Homo sapiens: one gene and its partners. The protein of the gene in region 2 purifies or fractionates together with the protein of the main gene of each other region. This does not show direct contact. Each region holds a gene or a part of one and is shown on either strand. Other genes may lie near its edges. The genes, in order: DCAF13, CHEK2, RBM25, RAI14, HEATR6, EEF1D and PPM1G.

The links.
Region 1: the proteins of CHEK2 (region 2) and DCAF13 purify together in Homo sapiens (affinity purification with mass spectrometry; one study listed by BioGRID and IntAct). This does not show direct contact.
Region 3: the proteins of CHEK2 (region 2) and RBM25 purify together in Homo sapiens (co-purification; one study listed by BioGRID and IntAct). This does not show direct contact.
Region 4: the proteins of CHEK2 (region 2) and RAI14 purify together in Homo sapiens (affinity purification with mass spectrometry; one study listed by BioGRID and IntAct). This does not show direct contact.
Region 5: the proteins of CHEK2 (region 2) and HEATR6 purify together in Homo sapiens (affinity purification with mass spectrometry; one study listed by BioGRID and IntAct). This does not show direct contact.
Region 6: the proteins of CHEK2 (region 2) and EEF1D purify together in Homo sapiens (co-purification; one study listed by BioGRID and IntAct). This does not show direct contact.
Region 7: the proteins of CHEK2 (region 2) and PPM1G purify together in Homo sapiens (affinity purification with mass spectrometry; 2 studies listed by BioGRID and IntAct, with this or other methods). This does not show direct contact.

Annotation. Positions count from the first base shown.
Region 1 is NC_000008.11:103,435,886-103,439,385, reverse strand, and holds part of DCAF13 (DDB1- and CUL4-associated factor 13), read right to left. Parts: intron 1-3,500. UniProt on the Homo sapiens protein: Part of the small subunit (SSU) processome, first precursor of the small eukaryotic ribosomal subunit.
Region 2 is NC_000022.11:28,693,321-28,696,820, forward strand, and holds part of CHEK2 (serine/threonine-protein kinase Chk2), read right to left. Parts: intron 2,554-3,500; coding exon 2,390-2,553; intron 1,923-2,389; coding exon 1,807-1,922; intron 798-1,806; coding exon 712-797; intron 1-711. UniProt on the Homo sapiens protein: Serine/threonine-protein kinase which is required for checkpoint-mediated cell cycle arrest, activation of DNA repair and apoptosis in response to the presence of DNA double-strand breaks.
Region 3 is NC_000014.9:73,100,034-73,103,533, reverse strand, and holds part of RBM25 (RNA-binding protein 25), read right to left. Parts: intron 343-3,500; coding exon 56-342; intron 1-55. UniProt on the Homo sapiens protein: RNA-binding protein that acts as a regulator of alternative pre-mRNA splicing. Involved in apoptotic cell death through the regulation of the apoptotic factor BCL2L1 isoform expression.
Region 4 is NC_000005.10:34,659,328-34,662,827, reverse strand, and holds part of RAI14 (ankycorbin), read right to left. Parts: intron 1-3,500. UniProt on the Homo sapiens protein: Plays a role in actin regulation at the ectoplasmic specialization, a type of cell junction specific to testis. Important for establishment of sperm polarity and normal spermatid adhesion.
Region 5 is NC_000017.11:60,040,922-60,044,421, reverse strand, and holds the end of HEATR6 (HEAT repeat-containing protein 6), read left to right. Parts: intron 1-287; coding exon 288-859; 3' UTR 860-3,414; downstream 3,415-3,500. UniProt on the Homo sapiens protein: Amplification-dependent oncogene.
Region 6 is NC_000008.11:143,590,916-143,594,415, forward strand, and holds part of EEF1D (elongation factor 1-delta), read right to left. Parts: exon of another isoform or gene 2,981-3,500; coding exon of another isoform or gene 2,978-2,980; exon of another isoform or gene 1,746-2,977; 5' UTR 1,732-1,745; exon of another isoform or gene 1,297-1,731; coding exon of another isoform or gene 1,174-1,296; exon of another isoform or gene 1-1,173.
Region 7 is NC_000002.12:27,389,092-27,392,591, forward strand, and holds part of PPM1G (protein phosphatase 1G), read right to left. Parts: intron 1-3,500.

The DNA of each region.
Region 1 (3,500 bases), on a different chromosome or scaffold from region 2:
AAGCTTAATTAAAGTGAGTTGATGATTTACATGTGTGAAAAGGAAGGGAGGACTACAGAAGTGTCTGATAAGTTGAGGTAAGAATAATTTAATAGAGCCAGGTGCGGTGGCTCACACCTGTAATCCCAGCACTTTGGGAGGCTGCAGTAGGTGGATCACGAGGTCAGGAGATCGAGACCAGGTGAAACCCCATCTCTACTAAAAATGCAAAAAATTAGCCAGGCATGGTGGCAGGCGCCTGTAGTCCCAGCTACTTGGGAGGCTGAGGCAGAATGGCGTGAACCCAGGAGGCGGAGCTTGCAGTGAGCCGAGATCGTGCTACTGCACTCCAGCCTGGGCAACAGAGCAAGACTCCATCTCAAAAAAAGAAAAAAAAGAATCATTTAATAAATGGAGATGTCAAATATCATACCTATTTGGAAAGGCTGTGAAATATGCTAGAAGAATTCACAGGTGATACTATATTAGTAAGTGTTAAGAAAGGCATTAAAAAGCAAGTAAAATACAAGGTCAGAAAAAGTAAGATGAAACTTCTGGAGAAATAAATTTTCTGCATCTGGATTAAATTATTCAAAATGCAGAGTATATAAAGAGGAAGGAAACAGGCTCAATAAACTATGCACAGTAAAATAAAACTCAAACAGAATGACTAAATCAAATATTCATATCTATAAAAAATATCTCTAAAGTAGGCAAGGTGCAGTGGCTCATGCCTATAATCCCAGTACTTTGGTGAGAGGATTACTTGAGCCCAGGAGTTTGAGACCAGCCTGAGTAACACAGGGAGACCCCATAGCTACTAAAGATAAATTTTAAAAATTAGCTAGGTGTGGTGCTGCTCAGGAGTCTGAGGTAGGAGGATCACTAGAGCCCAGAAGACAGGGGCTGTAGTGAGCCGTGTGGCATCACTGCACTCTAGCCTGGCTGACAGAGCCAGACTCTGTCTCAAAAAAAAAAAAAAAAATCTCTCGACTATACTCACAAAACTGGTCTTTTACACTGTTTCTGATAGGTATGTTTTAAGCACTTTGATAAACCATTAGAAATTCATTTTTAAAAGAGAGGGGATGATTAAAAAGAACGTCCTATTAAAATGAAAACTAGATGAGATAGACTGCTTTTTCTTCTCCCGCTCAGTGCTCTGCTTTTGAAGACTCATTTCTTATAATCTCCACATACCTAAGAAGCCCTTTTTTCCAAAGCAGTATAATGCATTTGAAGTAGGGAAATTCAATCAGGTTTCCGTAACCATTAAACATAATCTGTTCATGCAGTAGACCAGTCAGATCCAACGGTTAGTCACTTAAGTAACTGAGAATCCTCCCCAATGGTAAACTATGCTGAGTTCTTAACTTCTAGATATGTTTATGTCTGCATATATGCTAAGTTTATTAAGCTCACCAAAAGTTCTACTATTAGGAGATAAATACATTTTTAAAGGCTTAAATTCTTTATATACACAGTCACACTAATTTTTCCATGTGAACACTATTAATTTACTTGTTTGCTCAGTAAATACTGAATGAACTTCCAACAGAAGCCTACTTTCAAATACTGACTTAACTGTAGTTTTAAAAAATTTACTCAAAATTTATTTTAAAAATAATATGCTTTAGCCATTTTAAGGTCTTTTAAAGGAAAATATTTTTTAAATACAGATTATTCACCCAAGCATGAGTTATTTGATGTTTATAATGATAGGAAACAAACCACAGAAACAAATTAGAACTAGCTTTCAAGCAGATAAAGGCAAAGGTCAGAGGGAACACCATTTATATCTAAACACAACAGGACGTTAACACATATTAAGACTGTGATTACAAAACCTCCAAATGACATCAGGAGACAATTTCTTAGAAATGAAATATAAGAACCCTTTTATACAATTTTGGAATAATGTGAGTTTTCTAGCTAGACCTACATTTAGCTGTCCACACTAGCTTTGGAATAATTCAGCCTGAACTCAGCTGCTGGCCCCTTGGGATCATAGGTAACTACACAGTCCTGTTTTTTTCTTTGTTCTCGTTTCATTCTTTTGTCTACTTATGTACCATGTTGGAAAAATACTATCCTACTACCTTTGGAAGTTGTGGTGCCAAGAAATGATGGAGGACCATATTCTCTTGATTCTCAACATTTTCCAGAGGTGAGAGAAATATGGAAGCTATTAGTCTTGCCTTGGGCCTAAGTGAATAATGCCAAAAAAACACTCATGACAATTTGGAGAATATCAAGGCAGCAACAAAGGAAGCAATAGTCACATAGGAACACACAGCAGAAGCTCTACAACAGAAATGATGAAATGAAGATCAAAGTCATCAGAACACTCCTGTCAGTATGCTTCTAACTGAAGCACCTTCATAATCAGATAAACAGTGATGAAGATAATTATCTGCTGACAATGACGATACATGGTGTAGAAATCCATATGGCTTCCTCAAATTACAGTGGAAAAAGACTTAAATATCACAAGTAAAAGAGCAAAGAGTTAGATAAGCAGATTGACTATGACCATGATCATCCAATTATCATAATTTTTTGAGAAAAATTATTTCCATTTATTTGGATTTATTTTATGGATGCTTCCAGGAACACATCTAAAGCATTACTAAGGAACAATGGGAATGTGTATAACAGCTCTTTGTAAACCATAATTCACTATACAGGGGGCTGTATCTATACAGGACTTAGTTTTTAAAGTCAGTCTGTAAAGTGAAAACTCGAGAACAAAATTCCCCTTGCAAACTCCTTAAAATGCCATCACTTTCTGTAAACTACCTCTTTACAAAAATAAGATATAATAGATGTATAAATAGATACTGTATTTAATAACATATAATATGTAGTAAAGGGCCAAACTATACAAAACACAATAAAAATCTTAAATATTAGAATCACACTCTATGTGCTTACAAAATGAGACACACACGAGACTATGGGACAGCTGAGTATTCAAATCTCCCACCTCTCAACCTCTCATCAACCAAGCCATATACCTACTAAAGTGAAATAGAGGGAGAACGGTCTTGACAATTTAAACTTACTTTTATTTCTTTTTTAATTTTTGGTTTGGCATACAGAGTTGGATTTGACTAAGTAAAAAATAACAAATGTAAAGTATTATTACTAATTTTTCTTAAACTGTATTGGAGCAAAAAACTTTATTAAACTCAGGTACCCTCTCAGAAAAGATAAATAATAATCAGGACAAAGAAAAATGAAACAAAAATAGTCATATGACATTTTGGTCAATGAGAGACTGCATATACGACAGTGGTCCATTAAGATAATACTGGATTTTTACTGTACTTTTCCTGTGTTTATATATGTTTACATAAACAAATACCACTGTGTTACAATTGCCCACAGTATTCAGCACAGTAACATGCTGAACAGATTCGTAGTCTAGAAGCAACAGGCCATATCATATGACCACACAGCCTAGGTGTGCAACACGTTATACCATCTAGTTTTGTTTAAGTGCACTCTGATGATGTTCA
Region 2 (3,500 bases):
TGAAAAGTGCAGGTGACAGCCTTCATTAAGGACACATTTACTCACCTGAATGAACAAGCAGTGGGACCCTTTATACCCAGTCACTTGGGCTTGAGAAATAGCTGGATTCTCCCCAGGGAGGCTGTCCTCCTCCCCCTCCCCCACTTCCCTGATTTAAGGTTGAAGATGGCTGGAATGCACCCCACCTATGAAGAGCAGTGGACATGGCTGGGGGTAGAGCCAGAACAAGCACTCAAAAGAACACAGGCCAAACAGGAGACTCGGGGCAGCCAAGTGGAACCAGAACAGGACATAAAGTGAGCGTGTACATCCAACAGCCATGAGTAATATCAAAAAGGTTGTAGCCTGGCCAGCACGGCGAAACCCCATCTCTACAAAAAATACAAAAAGTAGCTGGGCATGGCAGCATGCACCTGTAATCCCAGCTACTTGGGAGGCTGAGGCAGGAGAATCACTTGAACCCGGGGGCCAGAGGTTGCAGTGAGCTGAGATCGTGCCACTGCACTCCAGCCAGGGTGACAGAACAAGAACCTGTCTCAAAAAAAAAAATAAAACAGGTTGTAACCCATCCTCCAAGATACCCCCCATACATCTAAAACAATTAGATTAAACACTCAACAAAGTAAACATGTTTCTGTCCTCTGTCTCATGTCTCTCAGGCAGCAGGGCTTCCCATGTATTTTATGCTAGCAGGCACTGTCCCACACCCACCTGAAGCCACGGGTGTCTTAAGGCTTCTTCTGTCGTAAAACGTGCCTTTGGATCCACTACCAACAACTTCTTGACAAGGTCCAGAGCTAAAGCAACAATTGGGCAAATCACAGTGAAAAGGATAAATATATTATCAGTAAGAGTATGCCAGAATTAACAGGCCACCATTCAGAAAGAGCAGAGAGGGTCTGAGATCATCACGGAGTCAGCAGACAGGGCCCCCTAATCTTCCTCACTCTCTGTATTCAGAGTACTGTGAGAAGACCAGGAATGATAATGACACTCCCTGTCTCCTGCTGCTGGGACGTCAGTCACGACCTCTTCACTGCCTGTTCCCTCTCTTGTTGCTAGACTCAAGGTCGGACTAATTAAAGCTAAACTTCTACCCAATTCTAAGATACTTGGGATGCACAGCAAACTCTCTCTGACATCTACAGATGGATAGGTGACAGTTACTCAGCGAGGGAGAGGCTCCCTGGAACTGCAGACTTGTCAGAAATAAAACTTGGCTACTCCAGCAAGCAACAAATGCACGCTGGCCTGTATATTACAACATTATTATTCCTTAAATATTCTGACATTTAACACAATCACCTATGTTATGTTATTTGACATTTAATTTTCTACTTTCTCTTCAGGGAACTAAAGTTGCCAGGATAAATTATAAAATACAAGGTAACTAATGACATCTAGTTTTTACATGCTTGCTTACTCAAAGGAAACCTTGTAACTAAAAAGTTACAAGTGCATTTATTTTGCTCACTAAAATAGGTACCAGGCACTTGTGTACATGATACTTAACCCTCACAAAAACCTTTTAAGGTAGGGTTTATTGAGGGTCCCTTTACACAGAAAGAAATTGGAGATGGAGGTTAAATAACTTGCCTAAGGCCACACAGCTAAGTAGTAGCAGACCCAGGACCTGAGTGCATGCTCTTAATAATTTCCAGTGCCTCTCAAATGGTGTGAAACTAACAATAGAAAATAAGAACAGAATTGACAGGAGAAAACACCATGGAATTTGGGAAGAAACTCCCACCACAGCACATACACATTTTAGCATACCACAAATTCTTAACCCTTTCATATTCATACCTTTCTCTGAGACTTCTGCCCAGACTTCAGGAATGAAGTTGTATTTTCCACTGGTGATCTGATCCTTCAGTGACACTTGAGTCCTATGCTCAGAGAAAGGTGGATACCCACTAAGGCTTAATATTGGTAGAGAGAGAAAGGAAAAGAAATCAAGTGGCATTCTCAGTGGCATTCAGATATAAAGATTTCTTTTTCAGCATAATGAAAAGTCAGATTTTTCTTTAAATCAATGGTCAAAAAGTGAGCTAGGCTGGGCACAATGCCTTAGGCTTGTAATCCCAGCACTTTGGGAGGCCGAGGCAGGAGGATCACTTGAGCCCAGGAGTTCGAGACCAGCCTGGGCAACATGGCAAAACCCCATCACTACAAAAAATAGAAAAATTAGCTGGGCATGGTGGTGTGCATCTGTAGTCCCAGCTACTCGGGAGGCTGAGGTGGGAGGATCACTTGACCCAGGAGGCAGAGGCTACAGTTAGCCAAGATCAAGCCACTGCATGCCAGCCTGGACAACAGAGCAAGACACATTTGTGACTTCATCTAATCACCTCCTACCAGTCTGTGCAGCAATGAAAATATTTCTTACCAGATAAAAAGAATAACTCCTAAACTCCAGCAGTCCACAGCACGGTTATACCCAGCAGTCCCAACAGAAACAAGAACTTCAGGCGCCAAGTAGGTGGGGGTTCCACATAAGGTTCTCATGAGAGAGGTCTCTCCCAAAATCTTGGAGTGCCCAAAATCAGTAATCTAAAATTCAGTACAAAAGGGAATAATGTTGAACTTGCCATAAAATAAAAAGATTAACATAGTCTGCCAGTCCAAGAAGACACGTAGGCTAGATCAGTTTCTATTGTACAATTCACACCTGCCATTAATCTGGAATTTACAGATTCATGTCTTTGCAAGTTAGGACATTTAATTTTGCTTAAATTAAAATTCCTGAGCCTAGGAATCTCAACACTCAGGCTTTCCAACTTAACCTATGTCCTCTGTAATCTTACAAAAAGCTTATTATCTTTATCACAGACACTTCAGGATTCTAATTAGTTCTACATGGTTCTTAGACCCCAGTGTCTCAAACTTGGCTGCGCTATGGAATACCTGGGGAGCTTGGAAACACATGCTTATACCTGAGTGCCACTCTCAGCTTCTGAGGTAAAGCCTGGGTGTCATAAATCCTAACAAGAGATTCTAAAGTGATGCCAGACTTGAGAAACAGGGAAAGGCAGCGCATGTGATTACTCATTCATTCATTCACCTATTCTGAGATGATGTCTGGCCCTTTTGCACAGGCTGGAGTGCAGTGGTGCGATCTCAGCTCACTGCAACTTCTGCCTCCCAGGTTCAAGTGATTCTCGTGTCTCAGCCTCCCAAGTAGCTGGGATTACAGACACCCACCACCATGCCCAGCTAAATTTTTGTATTTTTTGCCATGTTGGCCAGGTTGGTCTCAAACTCCTGACCTCAGGTGATCTGCCCACCTCGGCCTCCCAAAGTGCTGGGATTACAGGTGTGAGCCACCATACCCAGCCCACTCGTCCATTTAGACCCCTCCTCTCTCTCTAAGCACAAAGGTCACTTGTACACAACAGAGCTCAATAAATGCTCATTCGAATCTGGATAAGAGCAGTATCACCTGATCTCTAAAATAATTGGTAACAGTGAAAGGGTCAGATTCTCATCCTTTTTACGCT
Region 3 (3,500 bases), on a different chromosome or scaffold from region 2:
TACCCGATAGTTTTCTTAAAGCTATCAGGAAACAGTAACTTCTGTAAAGCCTTACCTTGATCGACTGCGATCCTTATTACGATCTGAGCTCCTTTCTCTATCCCGGTCACGATCTCTCTCTCGATCCCGATCTCGGTCTCTCTCTTTTGTCCGGTCACGGTCCCTATCCCGTTCTCGTTCCCGCTCCCGTTCTTTCTCCTTTTCTCGTTCACGTTCTCTTTCCCTTTCTCGTTCCCGTTCTCGCCTTTCTCGTTCCCTTTCACGCTCCCTCTCTCTTTCTCTCCGTTCTTTCTCAATTTCCTGTCTTTCTTTTTCCTTTTTGCCTTTCTCTTCTTCCAGTTTCTAGAAACCAATAAAAGCACTTTTAGAGTTAACTCTGTAGCTCCAGTATTCAGATTTTTCCCGGCGCAAAGCCCAGTACTGGGAACAAAAACACCAAACCACTGATACATTAATATTAAATACTTGTGGTTTTATGTGACAAATTAAACTGAAGCAATCACAAGACTAGAAAGATTTCGTGCAAAACCATATACTCTACACAGACCAGGAATCTCCAATCTTGGATGCTGGGAGATTGTGTCAGGTGTGGCTGGCCACTCAATGACTATGTACTAACTAAAATGACCATGAAGAATGTGGTGGTTCGAAATATTTTCTATGAATACGATCATTGGTTAAAACTCAACTCTGTGCATTATAGATTTCTGTAAATCCACAAGATTATTAATACTAATTAAAACCCCAGACTGCACATTACCTCAAGTTGAGGGTTTCAAAGGGCAAGTGGTATAGAAGAATACCTATAATGCAACTAAATAATCTCTGCCCTCTGATTTGCCCACCCTCCAAAAGAAACACAAGCTGAATTCAGCCAAGAACTGCCTTATCATCTATGGAAACATTTACTCCCACCATTACAAGATGGACAGCCCACCAAATACAAAAAGTTTGAAAATCACTCACTTCAAGCAAAATATATGTAACTGTAATAGTTTAATTTAAAATATTTAAAAGCAACATACTTATGCCCATTATGCCTGTAAGACAATGAAAATATATTTACAATGATAAATCCATCCTTGGAAGGAACGATTGTGCATTAACTTACAGATGCTGTGCTAGGACATGGATCGCCAACACTGGATTAACCTTGCCTACAAGCTATGTTTCTGGGAGGAAGAGCAAGTACATGGTTCACAAATAAACCAAATAACAAAGTCAGACCAAGTTTGTACCCTGACAAGATTACCAGTGTACCACACGGTTTCTACACAAACTCAGAAAAAAATACCCCAAACAGGTAAAACAAAACAAAACAAAACACATTTATCCCTTTTGTTTCACGTTTAGTTTCACCAAAATGAAATTTTAAACTGCAACAATAAAATGTGCATTTTTCTTTTCTCAGTCATGTAATGCATTTAAAACAACTTTAAAAAGCAATCTTACCTGTCAGATACTCTTTTTCTCTTCCTCATGGATCAGAGAACTTATAGCAGGTTATGAAAGGAAAGCTAATGTATGAGCAATATATTCAGTTGCTGTGCCAGTCTATATCGAAGTAGAATACGGGCAAAGTCAAAACTGAATACATTGAAATTACAAAGGGATGAAATAAGATATGATAGAAAGAGGACAGAAACTAACAGCTATTAAAGGGGGAAAAATCTCATTTCTGAAACAGTTCCAATGAATATAAAAATTTATATTGTAAAATGAGGCTAGACTATATAAAACTTACCTCAATGGCATACACTTATAAAGAAATTTGTTTATTTCTGAAATAGATACTTACAGAATATTTTAGCTGTTCCAATACTAATTTTTCCTGTAGAATTCCTCAATTTTTAATTCTTGCTTATTTCACTGTGCTCCTTATATTCAGTTATATAAATAACCATTTGTTTCAGAACTCATTTCAAAAGTTTGGTTCTAAGTAAATGAAAAAGTGAGTGAATCTAGTCCATACTAAATGTTTCCTGAAGTTTATATATGAGATATATATATATATATATATACACACATGTATACAAATACAGGTATACATGTAAACATACATGTATATTTTTAAAGAAAGACTGGAGAAGGGAAATGAGGTGAGTCTAAAATTATGTAAGAAAGTCATGAAGAGGAAAGGACAGATTAAAAAATCATAAATCTTACCTTATTCTCTCTTCAGACTCATCCGTGCTGTAAATGGACGCCCCCTGCCACGCTGATACCCTGACAGTCTGTGGTTATTTAATAAACTCATACCAAAACATGCAAAGGTTCACTGAGCTCATTTTTTGTTACTGGAGTTTCAAACAACCCTTTTAGCCAAACCACCCAATAAAAAACAACTGTTTTGGTTTTTCATTTTGATTTCTTTTTATTTTGAAAAGACATTCTGAAAATTCAAAACATTCCCTCCAGTGAAATAATACTAAGGCAGTAAAATGCCTAACAGATTCCCAAACTTTAAAGCAAATATATTTTTGAATTTTTCTTAAAACATGATTTCCTCATAATTTACCAATAACATGACAGGGTTTAACAAATAAATAAAAACAAAAAGGGGGTAAACCACACACACAACCATATACCATTTTTAAGCTTACTCGGTCCTGAATTTCAGTATTATACCTAACCAAAATTATTCATCTAAAATGATTTCCCATAGACCACCTTTTCAACTCTCAAAATTAATTTTGGGAGAATTATGTTTGTGCTCTTAGACACATTTAATTCTTGAAAAAGCATTGTGTTTGTGAGCAAGGGCTGGGCATCTGGATAGTAAGTGTTCAGCAGCACTGATTCATTGGCATTATTTGTGAACTGCAGATTTTGAAAGCAATGGGAAAAAGTAAGAATAAAAGAGAAAATGAACATTTAACATTTCACTGAGTTAAAGATCTCTCAGTCTATCAGTAAGAACCAGCAACACCTTATTATCTCGACCATCAAAATACATTTCATGCAGTGTTTGCATTGCACCGTTCAAAAGCATCATTTTCAACACCAGCGAACATTCACAGATGCACTGTCATTGAGAGAAGCTTCAAATAGGCAAAACTCGTGAGTGGGATTTACTATGCATAAATACCCATTTCCAAGCCAGTTACCCCTTTGCATATTTTTCTGAGGGGGCATCCATAAATATAATAAAAAACAGAAGCTCATACTTACATCCTATTCCTTGTTACTTTCCAAGCTGAGAGTTTCATCTTGCATTAGTCACCATATGATCTCTATCATAATGGTGGGGGTCAATGAATAGATTAGCTTTATGGGAATTTACAGTTCTTCCATGCATCTAAAATTTGGTAAGTCTGGTAACCACTGACCTACTGTTTAAAATCTCCCCCACTCAACTTAAATCTATACAAATATAAAATGTAAATTTTAATCTCAGCTCTAAAGAAAAGGTATTCCTAAGATCAAGTTAAATAACTGCCCCCAGAAATACACTACAGTGTATGTTATCCTGCTGCCCCCTGAATCTAATTTAAGTCTGA
Region 4 (3,500 bases), on a different chromosome or scaffold from region 2:
GAACTTGAGAGGCGGAGGTTGCAGTGAGCCGAGATCACCCTATTGCACTCCCGCGTGGGCAACAGAGTGAGACTCTGTGTCTAAAAAAAAAAAAAAAAAAAAAAAATCTGTTTAAATTGTGCAACATTTTACTAATAATCATATAATTCTATGTTTATGATTTTCAGCTTAAAGTTTAACCCTATCTGGATCCATAATATACTGATTTCTTTCAATATCATTTTATTACAGAGGATACAATAAGAAATGTAAATGGTGTACTTCAGTATTCTAGTAATGTTTTAAAGGATATCATCAGTATCGTATACCTAATATAGTTCACTGGGAAAAAAAATCTAGACTCCTTTTCCCTATCACCATATAAAATGCATCCAAGAGGCCTCTGATATATTTAGCTTTGTTTTGTCAACTCCTATACTCATCATGCAAGGTAGAAAAAATTCAGTTGGCTTCTACTGAAACAATGCATTAGTGCTATAATAGTGAATGTTTTTTGTGCCATGAATTAAGGACTGTACGATGTGGCAATTCTTAGAGTATATCTAGGGACCTTTCTACATATTAGTTGCTCCAACATCTTCAGATTAAGGTTCTCATTTTCCTTCCATCATGAAAAATACATCCCTCCTCCCCCTCCAAAAAAATCCTCATAGATAAAAGCACAAAGTCAGGGCAATGATGATGTACACTCTGCAACAATCCAACAAAATACACTGTTTGTTCTTAGAAACGCAGTGTGGACCGGGGGCAGTGGCTCATGCCTGTAATCCCAGCACTTCAAGAGGCTGAAGCAGGAGGACCTTCTGAGCCCAGGAGTTCAAGACCAGCCTGGAAAACATAAGGAGACCTTGTCTTTGTAAAAAGTAAAAGAAAAACTAGGCAGGTGTGTTGGCACGCGCCTGTAGACACAACTATTTGAGAAGCTGAGGTGGGAGGATCACTTGAGCCCAGGAGTTCCAGAACAGAGCAAGATCCCATCTCAAGAAAAAAGAAAGAAATGCAGTGTGCTTCATGTTGCTTGGGATGGCTGCTGGCCTGTTACTGCAGATGTCGTGTGGAATACAGTCAGCATCTACTGGTTATGCATCTTCCACATTCATCGCATTGGAAACCAGGTTATCACAAAAGGAAAGATGGGTGTGCTTCCAAGCACCGTGTTACTTATGTTTTCCTCTAAATTCAGGATTAGGCAAAATGTTGGGAGAAAAAAAGTCTGAAGACATTAAGTGGCTTATAGGATAAATCACATAGATTTAAAAGGAGTGGTTTCCCTAGAAGACATAAGTTTTCTTACCCTGAAGGAATCTGTAAATATGAGATATGGTGCACATACCAGCACCATTTAGGATATCCAGTAAGTGTTAAAGGCGAAATTCCACAGAGAAAAAATAACAACAAAAAGCATATCCATTTGTTCATCAAACATCTGTTTACCTGCTAGGGGTCAACATTGTTCTAGACACCATGAATACAACAGTAAACAAGAGTGGCAAACCCCATGCCTTTGTAGAGCTCATAATCTAGTACAGAATACTGATATAAATTATAGATTGAGTATCCCTAAACCAGGAATCTGAATCTGAATCTGAAATGCTCCAAAGTCCAAAACTCTTTGAGCACCTACACGACACCAAAGGAAAGACCCACCGGAGCACTTCAAATTTTTGGATCAGGAATGTTCAACCATGTAATACAAATACTCCAAAAATTTTAAAAATATCCAAAATCTGAAACACTTCTGGTCCCAAGCATTCTGGAATAAAGAATACTCAACCTATACACGGCAAGCTAGAAGGTGGTAAGTGCCTTGGAGGTAAATAAAGCAGGGATGAGGTTGCAGGCTGGACTGGAAGGAGGTGTCTCAACATAACACCTGAAGGGATGACACAGCCATGTAGACGTCTAAGAGAAGTGCTTTCCAGGTAGTGGGAAGAGCACATGCAAAGGCTCTGAGGCAAGACGCCTGGTGATCCTTTTGCAGAATTCACGAGCATGATGATTGCATGTGTAACATGTGTCTGACATGAACTTAGGGAAAAAAAAAAAAAAGAATGTGCCCAGCAATTTGAAGGAATGAGGACGCCAATGTGTTTAAATGCCTTAAACTCCTTTCAGCCTGAGTGGTTACCATTAGGGTAAAAATGCGTCACTAACACAGCAACATTTTCACAGACTCTTAGAACAGGAATGTGCCTTTGTAAATGCTTACTCCTACCCCTTAATCTTACCAAAGAAATGAGGAAGAGGAGGTTGGGTGAGTAATCCAAGGTCACACGGCCAGTGAGTAGCTGAGAAAAGGTTTCTGCACAAGAATCCCAAACAGCACCATGGATTTGTCTCATGCTTCAATTTTACAATGAAGAGCCACTTTTTCTTTTTCTTTCTCTCTTTGAGTTGGAGTTTCACTCTTGTTGCCCAGGCTGGAGTACAATGGCCGGTGGGATCTCGGCTCACTGCAACCTCCACCTCCCAGGTTCAAGCGATTCATCTGCCTTAGCCTCCCGAGTAGCTGGGATTACAGGCATGCGCCACCACGCCTGGGTAATTTTGTATTTTTAGTAGAGACGGGGTTTCTCCATGTTGGTCAGGCTGGTCTCGAACTCCTGACCTCAGGTGATCCACCTGCCTCGGCCTCCCAAAGTGCTGGGAGCTGAGACAGGGTCTCACTCTGTCGCCCAGGCTGCAATGCAGTGGTGTAATCTAGGCTCACTGCAGCCTTGACATCCAGGACTCAAGCAATCCTCCCACCTCAGCCTCCTGAGTAGCTAGGACCACAGGCACACCACCACACCCAGCTAATTTTTGTATTTTTTGTAGAGATGAGGTTTTACCATGTTTCCCAGGCTAGTTTTGAACTCCTGAGTTCAAGCAATCCTCCTGCCTTGGCCTCCCAAAGTGCTGGGATTACAGGCATGCAACACTACACCAGTCCCACTTTTCTTAATTAAAACAAAGAAAGAAAAAAGAAAAAAATAATCCAGCCAACTATGTAATCTTCTTAGAATTTAATCAGTTTCACTTTTTTAGTCAACAGATAGCCAAGACCATACAAGCACCCTAAATATTTGTTGAAGAATGAATAATAAATGCAATATTACCTAAACTTCATTACCCAGCAACTAACTAAATAAGTGTGTAACAGAAAAATGTGTGCACAAGAAAACATCTCAGGATGTTTATTGTACAAACTGTTATAGTAAAAAGAAATAAAAATAAAAATGAAAATGGAAATAGAGTGTCACTCAGCAGAAAAAGTGTAACAGTGAAAAACTAGGCCAGGCACAGTGGCTCATGCACTGTGGAAGGCTGAGGTAGAAGGCTCACTTGAGGCTGAGAGTTCAAGGCCAGCCTGAGCAACATAGTAAGACCCTGTCTCTACAAAAATGAAAAAAATTAGCCAGGCATGGTGGCATGTGCCTGTGGTCCCAGCCACTTTGGAGGATGAGGCAGGAGGACTGCTTGAGCCCAGGAGATTGAGGCTGTAGTGAGCAGTGATCACG
Region 5 (3,500 bases), on a different chromosome or scaffold from region 2:
AGCCTTTTTCTGAGTCACCAAAGGCTTTATATTGGGTAGCAGAGGCTCTAAGCGTGTGGCAGGCTGAGGTAGGGAAAGAGGGAGGTTTGGGGATTGGCACCTGGCCACTTACCTAGGATCCTACAGTCAGTCACCACCCTTGTCTTACAGGATGATTGTGAGAATGAAGTGAACACATAAAATGAGTGTCTTGAGCACTAGTGTTTAAGCTTCCTTCCACCCCTCTCCCTCTCACCCCACCTAGTTCTAAGCCTGCATTTGTTTTAGTGACTGTGGATTCTTTCTAGGGACAGCCCCATGGACCTCCCAGGCCTACAATGCCCTGACATCGGTCGTGACATCATGCAAGAACTTCAAAGTGCGCATCAGATCTGCAGCTGCCCTTTCCGTCCCGGGGAAGAGAGAGCAGTACGGGTCTGTTGACCAGTATGCTCGGATCTGGAATGCATTGGTCACCGCTTTACAGAAGAGTGAAGACACCATAGACTTTTTGGAATTCAAGTACTGTGTCAGCCTACGGACCCAAATCTGCCAGGCACTGATTCACCTCTTGAGCTTGGCCAGTGCCTCGGACCTCCCTTGTATGAAAGAAACCCTTGAACTGAGTGGGAATATGGTCCAGTCCTATATTCTACAGTTTTTAAAATCAGGAGCAGAGGGAGATGACACTGGAGCACCCCACAGCCCACAGGAAAGAGACCAGATGGTCAGAATGGCCCTTAAACACATGGGCAGCATCCAGGCACCAACTGGAGACACAGCCAGAAGGGCCATCATGGGCTTTTTAGAAGAGATCCTGGCCGTTTGTTTTGACTCATCTGGATCACAAGGGGCACTCCCAGGGTTAACAAATCAGTGAAGATCCCACCATACTTTCTAGATGTCGAAGGCGGCAGTAGGAAGACCTGAGCTTGAGCATAAGATCTGTGGGATTTCATCTTAGGGGCAGAAACAATCCGTTCACTATTTATTTAGAATGACTTAGCAGCCATTTAAATTTTCACAGAGGGCTCAACCACCTTTGGAGTGACTCCATAGCACTGGCCATGGTCAGGGTTGTTGGAACATCTGACCTGTGCATCCAGGAGCCGAGGAGTCAGGTTGTAATACAGGCCAAGCAGACGGGCTTTGAGGGCATTTAGTCTCAGAAAAAAAAAATGTAGAAGGATTTCGGAATTAGAATTTTGTGTATTGTATCTGTAGTTTTGTAATAAACTAACGAAAAATAGTGTGTCCACAATCTCCTGTTGTTACCAAGTTGTATTTCTAGCAAGCTGCAAGCAGAGCTGCAGTTCAGCCAGTTTGTCCTGGCCCAGCTGCACAGGATGCGAGGATGCTGACAGTGCCTCACAGCCGCACAGGACCGAGGATGCTGACGGTGCCTCACAGCCACACAGGACGCGAGGATGCTGACGGTGCCTCACAGCCACACAGGACGCGAGGATGCTGACAGTGCCTCACAGCCACACAGGACGCGAGGATGCTGACGGTGCCTCACAGCCGCACAGGACCGAGGATGCTGACGGTGCCTCACAGCCACACAGGACGCGAGGATGCTGACGGTGCCTCACAGCCGCACAGGACCGAGGATGCTGACGGTGCCTCACAGCCACACAGGACGCGAGGATGCTGACGGTGCCTCACAGCCACACAGGACGCGAGGATGCTGACGGTGCCTCACAGCCGCACAGGACGCGAGGATGCTGACGGTGCCTCACAGCCACACAGGACGCGAGGATGCTGACAGTGCCTCACAGCCGCACAGGACGCGAGGATGCTGACAGTGCCTCACAGCCGCACAGGACGCGAGGATGCTGACAGTGCCTCACAGCCGCACAGGACGCGAGGATGCTGACGGTGCCTCACAGCCGCACAGGACGCGAGGATGCTGACAGTGCCTCACAGCCGCACAGGACGCGAGGATGCTGACAGTGCCTCACAGCCGCACAGGACGCGAGGATGCTGACAGTGCCTCACAGCCGCACAGGACGCGAGGATGCTGACAGTGCCTCACAGCCGCACAGGACGCGAGGATGCTGACAGTGCCTCACAGCCACACAGGACGCAAGGATGCTGACGGTGCCTCACAGCTGATGAGCTGCTGCTCCGAGCTTCTGGAGTGCCCGTGTTCCCCTGACCACCTTCCCTGCCACACCTCCCCACAATCCAATAACCAGAGTTAACTCCCAGCAAGCAGGGCCTTCTAACCTAGGCTACAACATTGACTTCTACCTACATTTCCTGATGCTCTTTAGGAGAATGTGATCCCACACACTAAATATATGGTTGTTTTGCCACCTTTTAATTTGTGCCTTTAAGAAAAGATCATTTGGTTAGTTGGTTACAAAGAGGGGTTTCCAATTATATTTTGATAATGCCCCACAAGTTATGAAGGTAACTTCTACTGAATATATATATTTAAATTTTGCATTTTTCTACTGAGCACCAACGATTTATTGGAATTGATTTCAATTAGGAATTTAGGGATATATAAGAACCAATTACAGTTGTCCATACTTATCTTTGATGTGGGACAATTAAGAAGTTACAAAAAATGGGTGTTGGTGATATTTTATCATGGTTATTTAGCTTAAAATACACGTGTAAAGGCAGGTGTCTTCCATTTTTCTCCTTTGCCTTTTAGCTGCTGTTTTCCTGCCTCTGACATGTTGGCTGCTCAGAAACTGCTCTCTGGGCAGTGATTGGGGAACAGGGTATTCAAGTTCACTAAAGGCTCAATTTTCCATTGATAGAATATCAGTGTCCACAGAATTAAGACTGCAAGCACAGCAAAGACACCCATATTGAATGTTCCCTTAAATTGCTTTTATTTGGAGACAATTCTGAACATGAAGTGTTATAGAGGGCCCAGGAAACTAAGTTGAGCCCACCTGACCCTGTGATGAATCTTGGAACTTCCGTCTCTTGAATACATTCTTAGTAGTAGCTTCTTGGCATTTTCAAAAAAGGAAAAAAAAAATATGGCATAGACAGCTTATTACTGTGATTCTTTGAGTTTTCTCAGGTGAGTTTTTTGATAAAATATTTGTGAAGTGGCCTCATGGTTTCATTTGATGATTCACTCTTATCCTTTCCTTATCTTGAATAAAATCCCATTCATTTTCTTTTTAAAACTTCAGCTTCTGTAAAGGTTTCCAGATCCTGATGTGGATGTTAATGTTCATGTGCAGGAAAACAATGAAGGCATAGCACCTCTAGAAACTTCAGAAGGCAGTGGTACCTGCTGTGTCCCAACAGTATGCTGATTCTCTTCTCTGCAGCATTGTGGGTGTACATACACTAAAGGACAGAAGCTCCTCATATGCCTGGGCACGTGCCTCCATAAAGCTGCTGTGGGGAAAGGAAGCCACTGACAATAAAGACAACTTAAGCTGATGAAAATCAGCACACAGCTCCACTGGTTCAGATTTCTAATGCAGAATGCCAGATTCTAAATTATCTTTTGACACTTAAAAATTGGGAGGAAGAGTCATCCAGGC
Region 6 (3,500 bases), on a different chromosome or scaffold from region 2:
GGAGCTTCTTTGTGGGCCTGACTGTCCTCCCCAGGAGGGGGCCAGGTGGCCGGGCAGAGGGTGGAGTGCCCACTCATGAAGGAGACGCCAGGGAGGATGCTGGTGACCACTGTGTAGAAAGGAGGGGCCAAGCGCCTGGAGCACTGAGACGGCTCTAGGCTCTCTATCAGCTGCCCCCGCCTCCCAGCTGGAGTCCATACCTTTGGGTCCATCCAAGCTAAAGGGGAATCATGGGGCTCTCACAGTCCCAGGACATCAGGGCCCCCTCTAAGGTTTTGCTTCTGTGTAATGTTAAGAGGGACCATCTTGGTGGGAGGCAGGTTGTGAGGCTCCACTCCCCACTTGCTACTGTGGCCTGGGAGCCTCAGCCTCCTCCCTGGATGAGGTGTTCCCTCAAGCTCTGGGCGACCTCAGTCACCTGCTGCCCCAGTGCTCCAGCAGCCATGTGGGATCCTGCCGGGGGCACGCTCTGCTCCCAGGTGTCCAGTGTGGTGTTACAGAAAGGACAGGCCCAGAAGGCCAGGGGCAAATCTGCTCTTGGGATGCAGGTCAGCACCCCAGCCCGCGCTCAGCCTGCGATAGCTTCCTCCCCAGCCATGCCCGACTCCAGGCTCTGCTCCCCAAAAGCAGAAACGCCTGGGCCTAACCAACGCCTAGGAGCACCCTCAAGAGGGGGCTGTGCAGCTGCCCCTCACAGACACCGCTGCTAGTCTGCTGCCTCCGCAGGTGTGTCTAGTGGAGCCTGAGGGCAGACAGACCCAGTGGCCCCAGGGCACCGTGACTGGGACCACCTGCCTGGTCTGCACCCAGAGGGAGGCAGCCTTCGGTCAAGAGCAGACCCTTCACACCAGTGGCTATGGGTCTTCGCCCCTCTTCTAACATCCTTACCCAACAAAACCAAGGCTGGCTCCAACGCCCCCCGTGGGGTGCTGAGCTGTCTACGCTCCACCCAGGCAGGGAGGACTTTTGGGAAGGCACCCCTGGCACTGCACTCTGCAGCCTCTAAGTGGAACATGGAGTTCTTTGCGGGCATGTGGCCCGAATCCCGCAGTCCCAGCAACAAGTTCTAATGGCACCAACGAGGAACCGGGGCCCATGGGAGGCCACAGGGCCCATGAAGACGCTCCCTAGGCTCCCCTGCTCATTCCTTCCCCAGGCTGGGGCAGCACTTACCAAGGCCAGGCTGATGGGCAGAGGCAGGGGTTGTGGGTTGGGGGTGGGGTGGGAGCAAGAGCCCAGGAGACAGGGCATTGTGACATCGTGCGGTGGTACCCCCACCAGTCTCTCTGCTCCCATGGAGCCGTGCAGGTCCCATCAGCAGTGCCACTGAGCTGGCCCCCAGTGTTGATGCCCTACCAGACTTTATTGGCCAAAGTGGCCTCAGACTATGTTCTTGGGGGCTCCGGGCAGAAGCCGCCGCTCAGGGAGGGGAAGCCACTTCAAGGCTCCTACCGAGACCTGGCACTGCCACCTGTTCCCTGCAGGGAGCCGCATGTCAGCTGCTGACCCGCCAGCCCAGGACAGGACCCTGCTCACGGCCACACAGGGTGCCCACCTGCTGCTGCCCCATCCAGAAAACCCAATTCCTCCACTTTCCAGATGGGAAACTGAGGCCCTCTGGGCAGACTGGGCCATGCGCAGGTGGTGCTGGGTTCCCTCAGGTGCAGCGAGGGCTGGGGGTTCCCCGGTCAAATGAAGGGGAATGGGGCATGAGGACAGGCGAGTACTTACTTTGCTTTGGCCTCCTAGGACAGCATGAAGGAAAAGCAGCAAGGTTAGAGGCAGCCAGAAAGACTAACCGGGTCAGACACAGCAGCAGGTCAGCCCGGGGCGGCCGGGGGCCTTTCCAGAAGCTGCTTGGCGAGGTGGTGTGGAGGTGACACTGGTGGAGATGGAAGCTGAGCGCCAGACAGACCCGCCGCCACCACAATCCCAGGTGGCAGCTGAGTCCACACAGGTGACGTCACTCCGTCATCCCCTGAAAGGGGAGCTCTTGGGATTACTGTCAGTTGGAGCCTAGGCAGGCCCTGGGGGACAAGCAGGGACCACTATCTGAGCCAACCTTTCCCAAATCCACCCACCCTGTCGTCACCTGAGCAAGGTAGCCTGAGACAAGATAAGCCAGCGCCCACAAGCATCCCCTGGAGCTGCCAAGGAGCTCCCCCAAGCCCCTCACCTGCACTGCCCCTGTGTCCGGTCTGCTGAAGGAGGCCCGGAAGATGACAAGGACCCTCAAGGGGGAGGCAGCCCAGGGCTCACATTAATACAGGGCCTCTCTCTCAGCAGGAGCCACCGTCAAGACAGGGCTGGCACCCAAGGGCCCCAGCACAAGCTACAAAGGCCTCCCAGACTGACTCTCCCACAATGTGCACACAAGGACAGGACCTCCACCCAGTTCACTCCTCGGCTGGAGACACTAGGTGTCCTGCCCCTAATCTCACCAGAGCCACCTCATAAACCCTGCAAGCTCTGCGAAGGGCAGCTGGGCACAGCTGAAAGCCCAGCCACCAGCCCATGTCCTGGGTGGGACTGGGCAGGAGGGGCCACCTCCTACTGCTGATCAACCCGAGAGCCCTGGCTGGGATCCGTCTTCCTTCACCAACGGGAGCTCCGGCCCCAGGGCCCTGCCCACCTCTGTGCACCCCACACTGCAGCAGGGAGCACCCTGCAGGGAGGAACTGGGCACCCTGCAGGGGTCTGGTGGAGACGAGGATGCTACGGAGGCAGCTGCCCCATGGGACCAGTAAGAGGGATCTTGGGTGGGCTTCCCTGCAGAGAGGAAGCCCTCAGGAGACACCACAGTAAGCCATGCTGGAGACCTGGAGGCCAGGCCCGTCACCTGGGGAGCTGGCCACTAACAGCGGGCAGAGAGCCTCCCAGGACAGCCAGCACAGCCCCCCACACGTCCGAGCCCACCTCCTCATTTCCCCGCTTCCCGCATTCCCAAGCATGGGAGGACCTGCCGGACGCAGCGCACCATCTCTCCTAACAGAGACCAAGTCTGAGCTTCAAAGCTTGCGCAGACGACAGGCACGTGCAAGCCTCTCCTCTCCAGCAGGAGAGCCCGGAGCAGGACACAGCGACTCTTTCAACTGCGTCCCGACAAACGGTCAGCCCCTTCGCTCCTGCAGTTTATCCAAGCTCAGGAGGAGCTTTCTAAAGAGAACACAGGGAGACAGCTGGCTGCCAGAGAAGCAGTCTTGGAAACGCCAGAGCCAGGCCCCAGGGGGAAGTGGCCAAAGTGTCCCTACTCTGCTCCTGGAAGCAGGCCAGGCTCACCACCAAGGCTCTTCCCTGAGGGGTAGACAGTGTCTGCCAAGCACCTGAGCCTCTGGCAGCTGCCCAGAGTTTGAGAGTGCCCTGGGGTCCTGGCTCTGGAAGGCTCCACCCAGCTAACAGGGCCTGTGACACAGGTGGCAGCCAGCAAGACCCACTGCAGCGGCATGGCCCTCACAGCCTCCCCTGTCCCTGTCCTGGGAGCAGCCCCGGCAGACTCCTAC
Region 7 (3,500 bases), on a different chromosome or scaffold from region 2:
TCTGGTCAGCTACCTTATGGTGTGCCTCAATTTTATCCTCTGTGATGTGGAATTACAATATCCACCACATCCACATCATCACAGAACTGTTGTAATGATGCAAAACACATAAAAGCCCTTTGTAAACTGGAATTTGCTACATAAAAATATATATATATATACACACACACATACACATATATGTATATTCTGCTCTGAAATTTAGCACCCATTTCACATTTTTCTTTTTTGTTCTTTTTCTCAAAGAGGACCACCCACAATAAAGATTCGTCTTACACCTTGAGGTCTCAGTCCTGAGAACTATCGCACAATTACCCTCTCCTTCACTTCTTGGTGAGGCTTGGGATCTATATTATGATTTGGAACTGTTTCACCTTCCCTAAACACTTTAATTTGCCCCCTTTACATGTCTGCTCATAACCTTTACCCACACCTTTGCTTCTCTCTATCCCTTACTGAGACAGAGCCAAGTATTTCAACATGGTCTCTTAGAAATCTAGAAAAACTCACCCAACCTTGTATAACCCCACCAACTGATTTATGCCTGAATCAGAACTACTAAGTTTGCTAGTCATAAAATGTTATGAGATTGGCTAGGTGCGATGGCTCACACCTGTAATCCCAGCGCTCTGGGAAGGTAGGCAGGAGGACTGATTGAGATCAGGAGTTGGAGACCAGCCTAGGCAACATAGCAAGACCCCGCCTCTACAAAAAAATTTTAAAGTTAGCCAGGCATAGCAGCATGCACCTGCAGTCAGTCCTAACTACTCGGAACACTGAGGCAAGAGGACCACCTGAGCCCAGGAGGTGGAGGCTGCAGAAAGCTATGATGCACCACTGCACTCCAGCCTGGGTGACAGAGGGAGACCCCATCTCTAAAACAAAACAAAGTTATAGGATCACATTGACTGTGGTAATTACTTCATTTCAGCATCTTGTTTTCTTTTTTTTTTGAGATGGAGTCTCCCAGGCTGGAGTAGAGTGGCGCGATCTAGGCTCACCATATCCTCCACTTTCCAGGTTCAAGCAATTCTCCTGCCTCAGTCTCCTGAGTGGCTGAAATTACAGTGGGCACCTGCCACCACGCCCAGCCAATTTTTGTATTTTCAGTAGAGACGGGGCTTCACCATGTTGCCCAGGCTCTTCTCAAACTCCTGAGCTCAAGTGATCTGCCCAGCTCGGCCTCCCAAAACGCTGGGATTACAGGCGTGAGCCATTGCAACTGGCCAAACACAGAAATTATCCTCTCTTCCTAGATTAACATTTTTTCTTAAACTCCTGATCTCAAATCCTTCTCCTTCAAGGTCTTACTACACAGAGAATGTAATAACCTTAACAGCAATCCAAATAGCCGTTTTGGCAATGGCTCATGCATGTAATCTCAACATTTTGGGAGGTCAAGGCAGGAGGACTGCTTGAGGCCAGGAGTTCAAGCCTGGGCAACATAGTGAGACCTCATCTCAACAACAACAACAACATCCGTAAACAGCCATTCTGCAGACTTCATTTCCCCTAGCCATTATGTCAGATTAAACAGTACAAACCATGTCAGTTTTTTTTTTATTTTTCAATGTTTATTTTAGAATCACAGAATACATGTGTAAGTTTGTTAGAAAGGTATACTGTGTGATGCTGAGGTTTGGGGTATGACTGAACCCGTTTCCCAGGTGCTGGGTATAGTATCAAATAGGTAGTTTTTCAGCTGTTCCTCTGCCACACAACCCCCACCCCCACCCTGCCGCACCACCACCTCTAGTAGACCCATGTCTATTGTTGCCATCTTTACATCCATGTGTACTTGATGTTCAGCTCCCACTCTCACTGCGTGAGAACACGCAGTATTTGGTTTTCTGTTTCTGTGTTAGTTTGCTTAGGATAATGCCCTCCAGCTACATTCATGTTGTTGCAAAGACATTATTTCATTATTTTTAATGGGTGCATAGTATTCCATGATGGCTATGTACCATATTTTCTTTTCTTTTCTAGTCCGCCACTGATGGGCACATGAGTTGATTCAATGTTTTTGCTATTGTGAATGGTGCCACAATGAACATACAGGTACATATGTTCTTTTGGCAGAATGATTTATTTTCCTTTGGCCGTATATCCAGCCATCAGATTGCTGGGTCTAATGGTAGTTCCACTCTTAGTTCTCTGAGAAATCTCCAAACTGACTGTGCCTACGCTAAATTAATTTACACCTTCACCAACAGTGTACAAGTGTCTGCTTTCCTCTGCAGCCTCACCAACGTTTCTCATTTTTTGACATTTTAACAAAAGCTGTTCTGACTGGTGTGAGATGGTATCTCTTTGTGGTTCTAATTTGCATTTGTCTGATGATTAGAAATGGGCGTTTTTTCATGTTTGTGGGCCACATGTACGTCTTTTGAGAAGTATCTGTTCATGTCCTTTGCCCACTTTTTAAGGGGGTTATTTGCTTTTTGCTTGTTAGGTTCCTTATAGATTTTGGATATTAGACTTTTGTTGGATGTATACTTTGTGAATATTTTCTCCCATTCTATAGGTTGTTTACCCCCTTGATAGTTTCTCTTGCTGCATGTCACTTTTCTTGAAAGATCTCTTGGATTCTGTGTAGTTCTATACCTCTGACTGCCTGTTTCTACAGGATGTTCTTTTTTTCTTTCTTTTTTTTTTTTTTGAGACAGAGTCTAGCTCTGTTGCCAGGGTGGAGTGCAGTGGCGCGATCTCGGCTCATCACAACCTCTGCCTCTCGGGTTCAAGCAATTCTCCTGCCTCAGCCTCCTGAGTAGCTGGGATAACAGGCACGCGCCGCCACGCCCAGCTAATTTTTGTATTTTTAGTAGAGACGGGGTTTCACCATGTTGGCCAGGATGGTCTCGATCTCCTGGACCTCGTGATCTGCCCACCTTGGCCTCCCAAAGTGCTGGGATTACGGGTGTGAGCCACTGCACCCGGCCAGGATGTTCTTTCTCTCTATACCTCAAACTTAACACATGTAATCAGGAAATCAGCAGTCTGCAAAAAAAAAAAAATCAAGAGCTTCCCCTACAGGTCTTATTTCTGTAAATGGAATCTTAACTCTCCCAGACAACACTTAATACCAGAGTCATGCTTAACTTCCTGGCTGTCTTCCACCATCCATCACTGAGTCCTGCATGCAGTCCTTCATCATGTTGTTGTTCCTGGATTACTTTGTTTTGTTGGTTTGTTTTGTTTTTTTTTTTTTTTTTTTTTTTTGAGAGAGAGAATGTCTCCCTGTCACCCAGGCTGGAGTACAGTGGCATGATCTCAGCTTACTACAACCTCCGCAGCCCAGGTTCAAGTGATTCTCATGCCTCAGCCTCCCAAGTAGCCGGGATTACAGGTGTGTGCCACCATGACTGGCTAGTTTTTATATTTTTAGTAGACACGGGGTTTCACCATGTTGCCCAGGCTGGTCTCAAACTCCCGACCTCAGGTGATCCTCCCGCCTCAGCCTCCCAAAGTGCTGAGATTTAGGCATGAGCCACTACGCCAGC